2 linked regions of the Homo sapiens genome follow. The protein of the gene in region 1 interacts with the protein of each later gene in a pairwise test. Each region holds a gene or a part of one and is shown in the gene's direction. Other genes may lie near its edges. The genes, in order: ELF1 and HOXC13.

Evidence for each region.
Region 2: the proteins of ELF1 (region 1) and HOXC13 interact in binary tests that used the Homo sapiens proteins (3 or more experiments, as listed by UniProt).

What each region holds. Positions count from the first base shown.
Region 1 is NC_000013.11:40,946,199-40,953,487, reverse strand, and holds part of ELF1 (ETS-related transcription factor Elf-1), read left to right. Parts: intron 1-2,051; coding exon 2,052-2,159; intron 2,160-3,514; coding exon 3,515-3,682; intron 3,683-7,289.
Region 2 is NC_000012.12:53,941,542-53,947,044, forward strand, and holds the end of HOXC13 (homeobox protein Hox-C13), read left to right. Parts: intron 1-3,458; coding exon 3,459-3,715; 3' UTR 3,716-5,003; downstream 5,004-5,503. UniProt on the Homo sapiens protein: Transcription factor which plays a role in hair follicle differentiation. Regulates FOXQ1 expression and that of other hair-specific genes.

The sequences.
Region 1 (7,289 bases):
CTTCACATGGTCTTATGTTTTGTACCTGCCAGTGTTCATATTTCATCTTAGAGGGACACTAACCATATTGGATTAGGGCCTACACTAATAACCTCATTTTAACTCAGTTATCTCTTTAAAGACATTCTGAGGTACTGGGGGTTAGCATGTCAACATAGAATTTTGGGGGATACCATTCAGCCTATAATAGATGATATTAAAGAATTACTGTAGGCCGGGCACGGTGGCTGACACTTGTAATCCCAGCACTTTGGGAGGCCGAGGCGGGCAGATCACCTGAGGTCGGGAGTTCAAGACCAGCCTGACCAACATGGAGAAATCCCGTCTCTACTGAAAATACAGAATTAGCTGGGCATGGTGGCACATGCCTGTATTCCCAGCTACTCAAGAGGCTGAGGCAGGAGAATCGCTTGAATCTGGGAGGCAGAGGTTGCGGTGAGCCAAGATCACACCATTGCACTCCAGCCTGGGCAACAAGATTGAAACTTTGTCTCAAAAAAAAAAAAAAAGATTTATTGTTAGTATATTTAAGATATGATAGTAGTATTGTGTTAGACATCTTTTAGATACACATGCTAAAGTATTTAGAGATAAAATATGGTATTTTAGATTCCTTCAAAATAATCCTGTACAGAGGGTAAGGACTTGAGGGCAGTGAGTGGGGTATGGATGAAAGAAGATTGGCCATTTGGTGATAATAGTTGAAGCTAGGAATGGGCACATGGGGATTCATTATATATACTATACTCCACAATTTTTATTTTGTTTAAAATTTTCATAATAAAAATATTTGAACAGATGCAGCGGCTCACACCTGTAATCCCAGAACTTTGGGAGGCCAAGGAGGGAGGATCACCTGAGCCCAGGAATTCAAGGCCTGGCTTGAGGAATTCAGGCCTGGCTTGAGGAATTCAAGTGAGCAACATAGCGGGACCCTGTCTCTAAAAAAATTTTAAAAATTAGCTGGGCATGGTGGCCTGAGACTGTAGTCCTGTCTACTCGGGAGGCTGAGGTGGTAGGATTGCTTGAGCCTAGGAGTTTATGGTTGCAGTGAGCTATAATTGAGCCACTGCACTCTAGCCTGGGAGACAGGGTAAGACCTTGTCTCAAAAAAAAAAAGCAAAACCAAAAAGATTTAATGATTTTATGAAATTTGAGGCTTAGATTATATTTTGAGCTGTCATCAAAATACATAAATTTTTTTTTAGTCTTGCCAAAAAAAATTAAAGTTGAATTTCATCAAGCCTCCAGATATGACTACTCAGTTAGAGGGGGTATAGAAAAACATGTTAAGCTACACAATAGGAATATAGTTGGCAAAATCCAAACTATGGGAAATTCTACATGAATAAACAGCCTGAGTTCTTCAACAAATAAATTGCAAAGTAAAAAAAGCTAGACAGATGAATGGCAACTCAGAAATGTAAAGAAAGTTAAGAAATGTATCAGTCAATTGCAATATGCAGACTTAATTTGATTTAAGCAAAAAACTGTCTTGTCTTTCCTTGCACTGCCACCATTTATGATTTTTTAACACAATTGAACATTTGAATGCTGGTTGGCTATTTAATATTAAGGAAATATTGATTTTTTAATGTAATAGTTTCTGTTTTTTTTTTTTAAGACAGAGTCTCACTCTGTCACCCAGACTGGAGTGCAGTGGTTTAGTCTCAGCTCATTGAAACCTCCACCTTCTGGGTTCAAACGATTCTCCTATCTCACTCTCCTGAGTAGCTGGGACTACAGGTGCGTGCCACCACGCCCAGCTAATTTTTTGTATTTTTAGTAGAAACAGGGTTTCTCCATGTTGGCCAGTCTCAGACTCCTGACCTCAAGCAATCTGCTTGCCTCGGCTTCCCAAAGTGCGGGATTACAGGAATGAGCCACTGCGCCAGCCAGGTTTGGTATGATTTTGTGTGTTTATAGTTTATATATATATATAAACTAAAATATTAAATGATGTATTCTGGTTCTAGAGATAAGCGGTGTATGACTTTCAGAGTAACAGATGTCTCGTAGTTAATTTAATTTTCTCTTTAAATGTGTTGCAGTTGAAGCTTCTTGTCATGACGGGGATGAAACAATTGAAACTATTGAGGCTGCTGAGGCACTCCTCAATATGGATTCCCCTGGCCCTATGCTGGATGAAAAACGAATAAGTGAGTGATTATGATTGTTTATGTTTATGTACTTTGTTAAGTTACTCTTGCCATCTTTCTTTATTAGTAAAATCAAGAGATTAGAAATGATGTTATATATTTTTTGTTACAATCACATTTTAAGGTATAGTAGGAATTGAGGTGCCTTTGCAAAAACGTAGAGTTAAAGATGACATTTTAATTTGAGAATGAAGCCTTTGGGAACAAAAAAATGTAATTTATTACTTACCAAATAGAAGATCATGCAGAATTTCTTCTCTTAACATATTGATGAGAGTATTAGGGTATCAAGGGCCCAAATGATTATAATTTAGTCATCTCTGTAGTTATCAGCAAATAGGCAACAATCTATTGAAAATTTTACTGACACATCATGGCATAAAATTCACTGCCACATTATTGATCTGCTTTAAAATTCCTGTTCTCCTTTGGGCTTTTCTGACAAGCAATCAAATTCATAAAGTAAATTATTGCTAAATCAGTCTAAAATGTTTATTCAATATTTGCTATATTCACAGCAGCAATAATTAGGCAATAACATGAGATACAAATGAGCAGATACTGTTCCTTTCCTCAAGCTTACAGTTTAATTTTGAAGACAGTTACTTATGTAAATAACTACAAAGCCAAGAATAAAGGCCACAAGAGTGATAGCGAATTGCTCTAGTAGCAGTGGGTATTCTAGCTGAGAATATCAGAGACTGGCTTCATTGAAGGAGTATTCTGACCTGGGCTGTAAATGACAAGCTTTTAATAGGTAGAAGAGACATGAAAGGTCATTCAAGCTGGAGGGAATGGAGTTAAAGATACAAGACACAGATCTGTTAAAAAAAAAATGAATGAAATCTTTGAGATCAAGATGTTTTGGTGTGGTTGAAGTGTAAGCTTCATGGTGGGTGGGAAATGAGATTGGAAAGGTAGGTTTGGAACTAGATTACAGAAGCTTTGTAAGGCATGCTATAGAGATGGGTTGTGATTATTTTTTTGTTTGTTTTTTGTTTTTCCTATGAACTATGGAAAGGTATGTCAGTTTTGTTTTTTATTCCCCTAATTTTATGGTCAGGTCAGACTTAGGTTTCAGAAAATAACTCTCACAGCAATGTGAATAATCAAGAGGAGAGATGAGACAGACTGGTGATAGGAAGTCAAGTAAGAAAGACATTGAAATAGCTCGCCGTGCCTGGACTGGTTTAGGGTATTTGATTTTGGGAAGGGGAACTTAAACGCAGGAATAGATTTCAAGATTTTATTTCTACTTTAATCTTCTAGTCATAATAGAAACAAGAAATTTTCTCAATCGTTTTTTAACTTATAATACACAGTGGACTATAATTAGTTGATTTTATTTTCATTAGATAATAATATATTTAGTTCACCTGAAGATGACATGGTTGTTGCCCCAGTCACCCATGTGTCCGTCACATTAGATGGGATTCCTGAAGTGATGGAAACACAGCAGGTGCAAGAAAAATATGCAGACTCACCGGGAGCCTCATCACCAGAACAGCCTAAGAGGAAAAAAGGTAGGTGGGTTACTTTGTTTAGGGCGCATAGTCAAGTCTTGGTGTGAAATCTAGATATCACTTTTATTCTACATAGTTCTTTCCTGCTGCAGTTAAAACTTATGTAAGAAAAACATTGAAGGCACAAAATGGAAATTATGAGTTATTTCTTGGCCAGGCACGGAGATTCATGCCTGTAATCCCAGCACTTTAGGAGGCCGAGGCAGGAAGATTGTTTGAGGCCAGGAGTTTGAGACCAGCCTGGGCAACAAAGCAAGACCTCATCTCTACAAAAAATTTTAAGAATTAGCTGGGCACGGTAGGCACCTGTAGTCCTAGATACTTGGGAGGCCAAGGTGGAGGATCCCTTGAGCTCAGGAGTTACAGGTTTCAGCGAGCTAAGGTCATGCCACTGCACTCCAGCCTGGGCAACAGACTGAGACCCTATCTCTAAGAAATAAAATAAAATAAAAATAAATAAATAAGAAAAAGAGGTATTTCTTCATAGTAGAATCATTTCTTTTAAAAAATTAAAGTATTGGGCCAGGTGCGGTGGCTCATGCCTTTAATCCCAGCACTTTGGGAGGTGGGGGTGGGTGGATAACCTGAGGTCAGGGGTTTGAGACCAGCCTGGCCAATAAGGTGAAACCCCGTCTCTACTAAAAATATGAAAATTAGCCGGGCATGTTGACAGGTGCCTGTAATCCCAGCTACTTGGGAAGCTGAGGCAGGAGAATCACTTGAACCCAGGAAGTGGAGGTTACAGTGAGCTGAGACCACAACATTGAACTCTAGCCTGGGCAACAAGAGTGAAACTCCATCTCAAAAAAATAATGATAATAATTAAATTATTTTATACTTTTAAAAAGTTTGGTCTATCTTACAGAAAAGGGATTTTCCAACTTTTTAAAGCCTCAAATTTTTATCTAAACCCTTTTGTCCTTGGGTAAGGTCTAGTCAGCTTCCTTCCCAGGGGTTATTGTTTGAAAGCCTCCAGTCTGTACCGGTGATTCCAGTATAAGACTCCAGTTGGAAAAATACAATGGGTTGGAAATCAGCAGGTAAGTAACTGAAGAGGAGTATTTTAGGATGTGTTGAGTGGGAATTTTTAACTTTTTGCCAATTAGGACCACACTTGCATTCTAAAGTCTGACACCTTTTCCATTTTATTGCCTTCTGATTCTACTCATGCTTGCTTAGTATTTTGAGTATAATGTCTTGATTAATAGCATCACCACCCACCCAGTAACCTAAGTTCATGTGAAAGTCAGGGAAATTCCAAGAGCTGAAAATGAAGAGGAAAATAAAAATAGTAAACATGAGCCGACACTGCAGCAGCTCAGAAGGGCTGAGAAGGATATGCCGAGGGGCTCTGGTTTTATTGTCCGTGTTGAGGCAGAAGCTTAGGTCTTGGGCTACGCAAGATGGGGTATCGGACAGAGACCTCAGCATGTAACTGGGACCCTTGAAGGGATATACCCTCTTGGGGGAAAGAAATCCACCCATTGGCACAGACAGATGTCAAGGAAGCTTGGGTCCCATTCAGCCAGGCCTCTGAGTGGAGAAATTCTGGTTTAATTTCTTTTGGGTAAATACTTAGTAGTGGAATGGCTGGATCACATGTTAAGTGTACATTAAATATTTTTCAGAAACACAAACTGCTTTCCAAAAAATTTTTTCTCCATGTATTAAGGTGGGGCAGTCATAGGACTTGCCTCATTTATTTCCTGTCTCTCAGGGATCACTGGCTTTTGTTGACCGATGTCCAATTTCTTCAGTACCATTGTTTCATACCTTTTTTTCTGTGTTTTTAATTGTTTCAGGTGGGAAGATAAATCCATGTTCTGTTATTCCATCTTGACTAGAAGAGGAAGTTCCCACCTAGTCTTTTTTAATAGCCTTATTCTTCGACCATGTTTTTGTTCTTTTGCTTTAAAACCTCTAATCATACTATGTAAAGTTTCTATTTAATAATTCTGTTATGTGTGATTCTTAGAGAACTAATCCTAGGGTTTCCTAGTCTACTGCTTCTCACTCAGAAAGTGTCTTCCTCATGTATTCTGTGATACCAAAATGTGAGTTCAGCTTCAACGGGGCTTTATCTGAGGAAATCTTGTATGGCCTAGGTTGAATGTATAACCCACCTGAGCAATTCTATAAGAGCTTCTGCCTGGTGCCCCATAGTTATTACAGTCCTGGGGCTACATCTGTGTTAATTACTTGGCTGGCAATTCCTAATGTTAGTGGTAGTTTAAAATCTAGTTGTAAACCCAGGTTAAGACAGGCCCAGGATTAACTATGTTTATAGAAAAATTTGTACATAAATGGCTGATCTCAACTCATTGCATCCTCCACCTCTTGGGTTCAGGTGATTCTCCTGCCTCTGCCTCCCAGGTAGCTGGGATTAAAGGCATGTGCCACCACACCTGGCTGATTTTTGTATTTTTAGTAGAGATGAGGTTTCACCATGTTGGCCAGGCTGGTCTTGAACTCCTGACCTCAAGTGGTCCACCGCCTCGACCTCCCAAGTGCTGGGATTACATGGATGAGCCACCCTGCCTGGCCATTTATGTACAAATTTTTCTTAAATATGTAGTATTTGTTTACCCAGTCAGCAGTTAATGGGATTTGGGTTGTTTGTAGTTTGGGGCAACTGCAAATAATGCTGCTAAGAACATTTGTGTATCTTTTTTTTTTTTTTTGAGATGGAGTCTCGTTCTCTCACCCAGGCTGGAGTGCAGTGGCACTTTTATCAACACAGTAAAAATACCACTCAACAATAAAACAATATACGATTGGTACATTCAACAAAAATGGATGAATCTCTCAAAATAATTGTGCTAAAAGAGGGAAGCCAGAAGAAAAAATATGTTTCTACAGTTTACCCCCAAACAATGTGGGGGTTAGGGCCGTCAGCCTCTGCAGCCAAAAATCCATGTAAAACTACAGGCGAGCCCCACCATACCCAGCTAATTTTTAATTTTTATTTTTGTAGAGGTGGGTCTCACTATGTTGCCTAGCTTGGTCTTAAACTTCTAGGCTCAAGCATTCCTCCTGGTTTGGCCTTCCCAAATGCTGAGATTACAGGTGTGAGCCACCATGCCTGGCCAAAGGTCTTCATGCTTGTTGTGTTTATGTTGGCTAGGCTGAGGAGGGAGGAGGAAGAAAAGGGTTTGGTCTTGCTGTCTCAGGAGTAGCAGAGGTGGAAGAGATGGAGGAAGTGGAAGGGGAGGCAGGAGACACAGGCACACTTGATGTAACTTTATTGAAAAAAGATCCCTATATAAGTGGGCCTGTGCAGTTCAAAGCTGTGTTTTGTTTGAGGGTCAGTTTTATTTTTATATAAAGCTCTAGAAACTACCAACTAATCTATAATGACAGGAAACAGATGAGTGGTTGCCTGTGGATTGGGCAGGGTGAGGAAGGGCGAGATGTAAGGATTACAAAGGGGCACAAAGTACTTTTGGGGTGATGAATATATTCATTGTTTTGAATGTAGTGGTGGTGTTAGTATACATAGTCAAAACTTGTCAAATTGTAAACATCAAACATACGTAGTTTATTATATGTCAGTTATACCTCAATAAAGCTGCTTAAAAAATAAAAGGCTAATATCCTACTTAATGTT
Region 2 (5,503 bases), on another chromosome or scaffold:
AACATCTCAAAGATTCCTAGGACACAAAACAAAACAAAACAAAACAAAACAAAACTCCACTAAAAATAAATACTTTTTTGATCACAGCCTCCTAGAGAAAAATATCTTTGAAATAAAAAAAGTATATCCCAATTGAGATTTAATACACTTGCAAATTATGGCATGGAAATGGATATAAAACCTAGCATGCCTCAGCAGCTATGTGCTCCCACAATCCCCGTGTGGAAATAGAATTGGGCTGATGTATCTCAGTGAGTGCAGAGGTACAGACAAGAGGCAGACGAATAAGAAATTATCTTCAGACACTCTCCATCTTTCTACCCACTCAGAGATCTTTTAGAAGTAGTGAGATTTCAAGATAACTCTGTCTGTGCAATTGTGGTTTGTTCGGCAACATGTAGGCATAAACACTGCTGTCTCTCTACAGTGCCTCTGGCTCTGAGAATCCTCATCTGTGGTAGTCTGGGCTGGTGTGGGAGATGGAGGCAATTGTTCAGCAAGATCCAGATAATTAGGGCCAAGATGTGTCGTGGCTTCTTCCTTCTCCCAATTATACAGACTCTTGCTTTATTGCTCTGGTTTTTTTTTTTTTCTCCCTACGGTGAGTGTAGACTTTTTTTTTTTTTTTTTTTTTTTTTTTTTTTTTTTTTGAGAGAGAGAGAGAAGCAGAAATTCCAGGAGAGAATCAGAAAGGGAGAAAAAGAGAGATGGGGTTTAGGAGAGAGAAAGAGGGAGAAAGAAACAGTGGGCTATTTGGACCACACTAGAAGTCTTTACTGACAAGCCTTTGGATTTGGGTTGGGAAGAGTAGCAAGCTGGATTTCTAGCTGGACAAGGCACTCTTCAGAGCCCAGAGCTTGCCTGTGGGGGGGCGGGTGGTCAAGGGTGGGTGGGCTGTGGGGAGCTGAACAGAGGGGCCCCGAAGCCCAAAAAGAAAGCCATGGCTGAGCATTGAGATGATTTTTATTTACTCCTCAAAGGTGTCTATTAGGTTTCCAGGCATGAAGTCATTCGTGTATGTGATCTGGAGGGAGACTAGGGAAGGGGTGATTGTAAGATTAATAACTAAGCCCCCACTCACTTTAGGCAGTGTACGCACATCTCCAGGTCCAAGCTACCAGATGTTTCTTCATCTCTACATACCATTTCCTTTCCAGATAAGGCAGCAGACAAAGAAAGGGGGCTTCTTTGAGAAGGCAAGACTGGAGTTATTTCCCCAGGAGGCCAAACCAACCTGCAGTTGGTCTGATCCAGGACAAATTGGCTAAATCAATCCTTGGCATCCTATAGAGAAAAATAACCAGTTTAAACCAGTTGTCTACTTTTTAAACTGATTTTTTTTAGGGTTGATTAAATCTCATTGGAAATTTAGAGCTAGAATTTAGGAAACCAAAATTGGATAGGTAATTGTGAGAGTTTAAAGAGAGTAAAGTAAAAAATTAGGGACAATTATCTGGCTAATTCAGAAACAAAAACCCACCTTTACCCTACTGTATTCTTCTCCAGGGAAAAGGAGGTGTTTTAAAGCTGGATTGTATTAGCTGGCCTATTTCCATTTTAAAACTTACTGTATCATTTTAAGAGTCAGAAAGTCTGGCTTTAAAATCTGGTTCTGCCACTTAAGTTATTTTACCCACTCTGAGCCTCAGATTCCTAATCTTGTAAAATGAGTTTAACAAAATAATCCTGAAAAAATGTTCTGAGGATTAAAAACAACAATAACAACAACAAAAGCAACAAACTCATGGTATCACTACATATCCTCTTCATTCTATTCTTGTCAACAAATCGTCAATTTCCCAAATCATGGTTACCTCTGTAAGAGTAAAACAAATTTGAGAACTGAGAGATTTAAAGATAATGGTCGTGTTCAAAAACAAATCCTTTTTAACCTAAAGGATCCATACTGTTTAAATAAAGTTATTTTGTTTTTTAGATTTTTTTAAATCATAGTTTATTCTCACAGAGGCAGAGAAAAATGCCAGGTCCAACAGTTTTCCTGAGAAATTGTCACCAGAAGACAGTCAAATGAGGCCATTGGACCCCGTCTCCCATTTTCTTCCTGAGCATTTTGTTTTCCCCTGTGTCTCACTGTGACCACTACTCTTCCCATTGTGTATAGAGTCCATGAGAGAAAGCAGACCCAATGGGGATGGGTACAGGGAAAGTGTTCTGTGAGGGTGGGATGGGAACAAACATTTCAGAAAGAACTTTGTGTCTTCCCTCTGGGCTGTGTCTATAGTTTCAAAATGTGGTAGGAATGAAGGGGAAACCCCAAATATTCAGCCCTCCTCATTAGCTTTCACCTAAAGTCTAATAATTACATGGAAAAAATTGAGGGCTGAGCTATCCAGATAATCTCCCTAGTTCCCCCACTTCCCCTTGAAAGTGTTGCGTGACCTTTATTGACAGGGATGAGGGTGGAGTAGAAAATGGAGTTAGAAGTGATATATATTGGTTTTAGTTTCTGTGAAATTCTCAGAGCCTAAAGAAACAGAACTGGTAATATTGGTTTGGATGACAGGCATCTAGGGTTTAGGGTTATGGTTGGTGCAAGGGATGTAGACAGTTTCCTTCAGCTGTGAAGGAATGGAGAGGGAAGGCGGTTGGAACAGAATTTGTTCTGTTTTGGTGGGACTGCAGTGTGGACCCCCTACTTCCAGAGACACCTGATTCCCTATATCTCAGGTTCAGGACCCCCCACCTTGGGTGTTAGGTGGTTCATAACATTGGACCCCAATTCCTAGAGTGTGGACCTCCAAGCAGGCTGGCTTCACCTGGACACTTATCTTCTATCTGTGCCTCACATCCCTAACGTAGGGCCAGTGTCCAAAGGCGTGAAGACTCATCTGGTGGTCTGGGCCCACTGAAGCTGACCCCCTGCCTGCCATGCCCTCCCTGAAATATACAACAGAATGTCTTCCTCTGGCAACGGGGCAGAATATAAACTAATAAGGACCCAAGCGATCTAACTGCAGGAAGGAGGGATTTTTCTGAATATCTGAAATTCTGCAAGCATGGCAGGCCAGGCTGGAATTTGGAGGGTCCCTTCTAAATATACAAGGATCCTAATATTGAGTGCTGTGAAGAGCCATATTGGGGCCTGAAACAAAAGAAAATCAGTAATACCGAACCCATGTTTATTTTTTTAATTGATATTTTGTTCATCATGGATGTTTTTGTATTCGTTTTGCTTTTTTAAACATTGCATTAAAATATCGTCTTGATTACTGAGTTTTTGGCGCCCCCTCCCTTAAACTTCGAGCCCAGTGGCCTCATCATAGTTGTGGTCTTGCTAAAATAACAGAAATGAAAAGCATTAGGGAGCTTCACTATGCAGTGCAATCCTCTGGCCCCGTTGAGCCCCTGCCAGAACTCTGTGCCTAGGCAGCCTCGGGTCCTCTATCTCAGTCCAGCCGCTTGCCTCACTTCTTCCCGCTTGCCTTATCTCCCCGCAGACGTGGTTCCCCTGCAGCCCGAGGTGAGCAGCTACCGGCGCGGGCGCAAGAAACGCGTGCCCTACACTAAGGTGCAGCTGAAGGAGCTAGAGAAGGAATACGCGGCTAGCAAGTTCATCACCAAAGAGAAGCGCCGGCGCATCTCCGCCACCACGAACCTCTCTGAGCGCCAGGTAACCATCTGGTTCCAGAACCGGCGGGTCAAAGAGAAGAAGGTGGTCAGCAAATCGAAAGCGCCTCATCTCCACTCCACCTGACCACCCACCCGCTGCTTGCCCCATCTATTTATGTCTCCGCTTTGTACCATAACCGAACCCACGGAAAGACGCTGCGCGGGTGCAGAAGAGTATTTAATGTTAAGGAAAGAGAAGAACCGCGCCGCCCGGAGGCAGAGAGGCTCCATGGCCGTGCTGCTGGGCCATCCCCAACTCCCTATCCCATCCCCAGCCTCCACCCCCATCCAGATGGGACTCACGTGGCTTCAACAGCTTTGGAAATGGGTCCCGAGTGGGCCGTGCGAGGAAGGCTGTCGACCTCTACTCCTCCTTGCGCTCACCTTGCCAGAAAGTCTGGTGGCAGCGCAGAGCCCAATCATTCCAACCAAAGCAGGGTTGGGGAATCCCGAATGGCCCCAATTCTTGCCTCATCCTATGACCAGGCTTTTAGAGGACCTTCCCTAAGGGCGCAGCTTCGGAGCAGGATCTGTCCAGCTCATACTTTCCTTCGCTGTCCCTCCCGCACTCCTTAGGCAAGATTTCCCAGTAAAGATTTTCTGTGCGTATTTTAAAAGTCGTGTTAATACTCATGATAATTATTAGGGACCTGGCAGCGTGATTGGAGTATGGATGTTTCCGTAAAAGCTGGAATTCCGTAAAAGCATTGACGCAGCCCCTACACTCCATCCCAACCAAGAAACTGCATTTCCTGGGGCCAGGTGGGAGCTGCCTTTGCCCCACTGCCTCCCCTGTTCTGCTCTCTCAGTCAACATGTGGAAATCCAAGGAGGACAAAGACTCCAGCCACGCTGCTAAATAGGGCTCCTCTCTCCTCTCTCTCTCTCTAGGTGGTAAGGTTGGGGATTAGTCCAGGTACAGAAGCAGAACTTTTTTCTAAGGATAAACATCTCTTCCAAGGGGATGGAGAGTGGGTCCCTCAACAAAGTCCCTGTCCAGTCACCTTTCCATCAGGGCACTAGCCCAGGAATGACTCCTCACACTTTCACCTTTACTGATTTCCAGAGGAAAGCTAGAGGATCTAGTTCAAGAGGCAAGAAGATCTGGCCCTCAATTAGCTAGATGTAGATGCTGCCTAACAGTTCCCTCCTCAAAGGCCACCTTGGTGCTGTGGGGGCCCCTTGCCTCTTCCCTTCCCACTGGTGCATTACAAAACAGTGTTCTTTTGAAATGTTCATCAGGAATAGGCTTTTTTAAAAAATGTTGTGTATCTGTATATAGTATTGTGATGTCTGAATGACAATGTACTGAATGCAAAAAGGAAAAAAACCCACAAACATGTTTTTAAAATAAAATATCTTTTTTTGCCTTGATTTTATTGCTCAGATTCTTTCTGAAGTCTATTCTGTCCACTGGCTCTTCAGGACAGTCTACTATGCCCTGACTCAGCCAGAATGATCAGGGGGAGGAGTATAGACATTGCTCCCAGCTGGGTAGATTCCAAACCCTTGTTTTGCTCCACTTAAGTTTTTGGGTTATCTATACTATCTATATAGGAGAAAACTTTCCATCCTGATGTCCAACTCAGATGAGTGTTTGTTGAGGAAGGAAAGACGTAATTGGTGACTGAAAGGCCTGGAGGCAGTGACAAAAATACATTGATGGTTACTTCGGTTAATAATTGGGGCTCAGATCTGGTTCTGGGTACTGAGAAAGTAGCATCCCAGCTGGGAACTGGATGAGGTAAATGCGGCAGCCGGTGGCAGTGAGGAATTAACCTTAGGCTCCTGGTGCTCTATTGCCCCAGAGGGCCCCGAATACCTTCAGCCAGTTCAGGACTGGAGTTGGGGCTGGGATGGGGTCAGCACAGCCT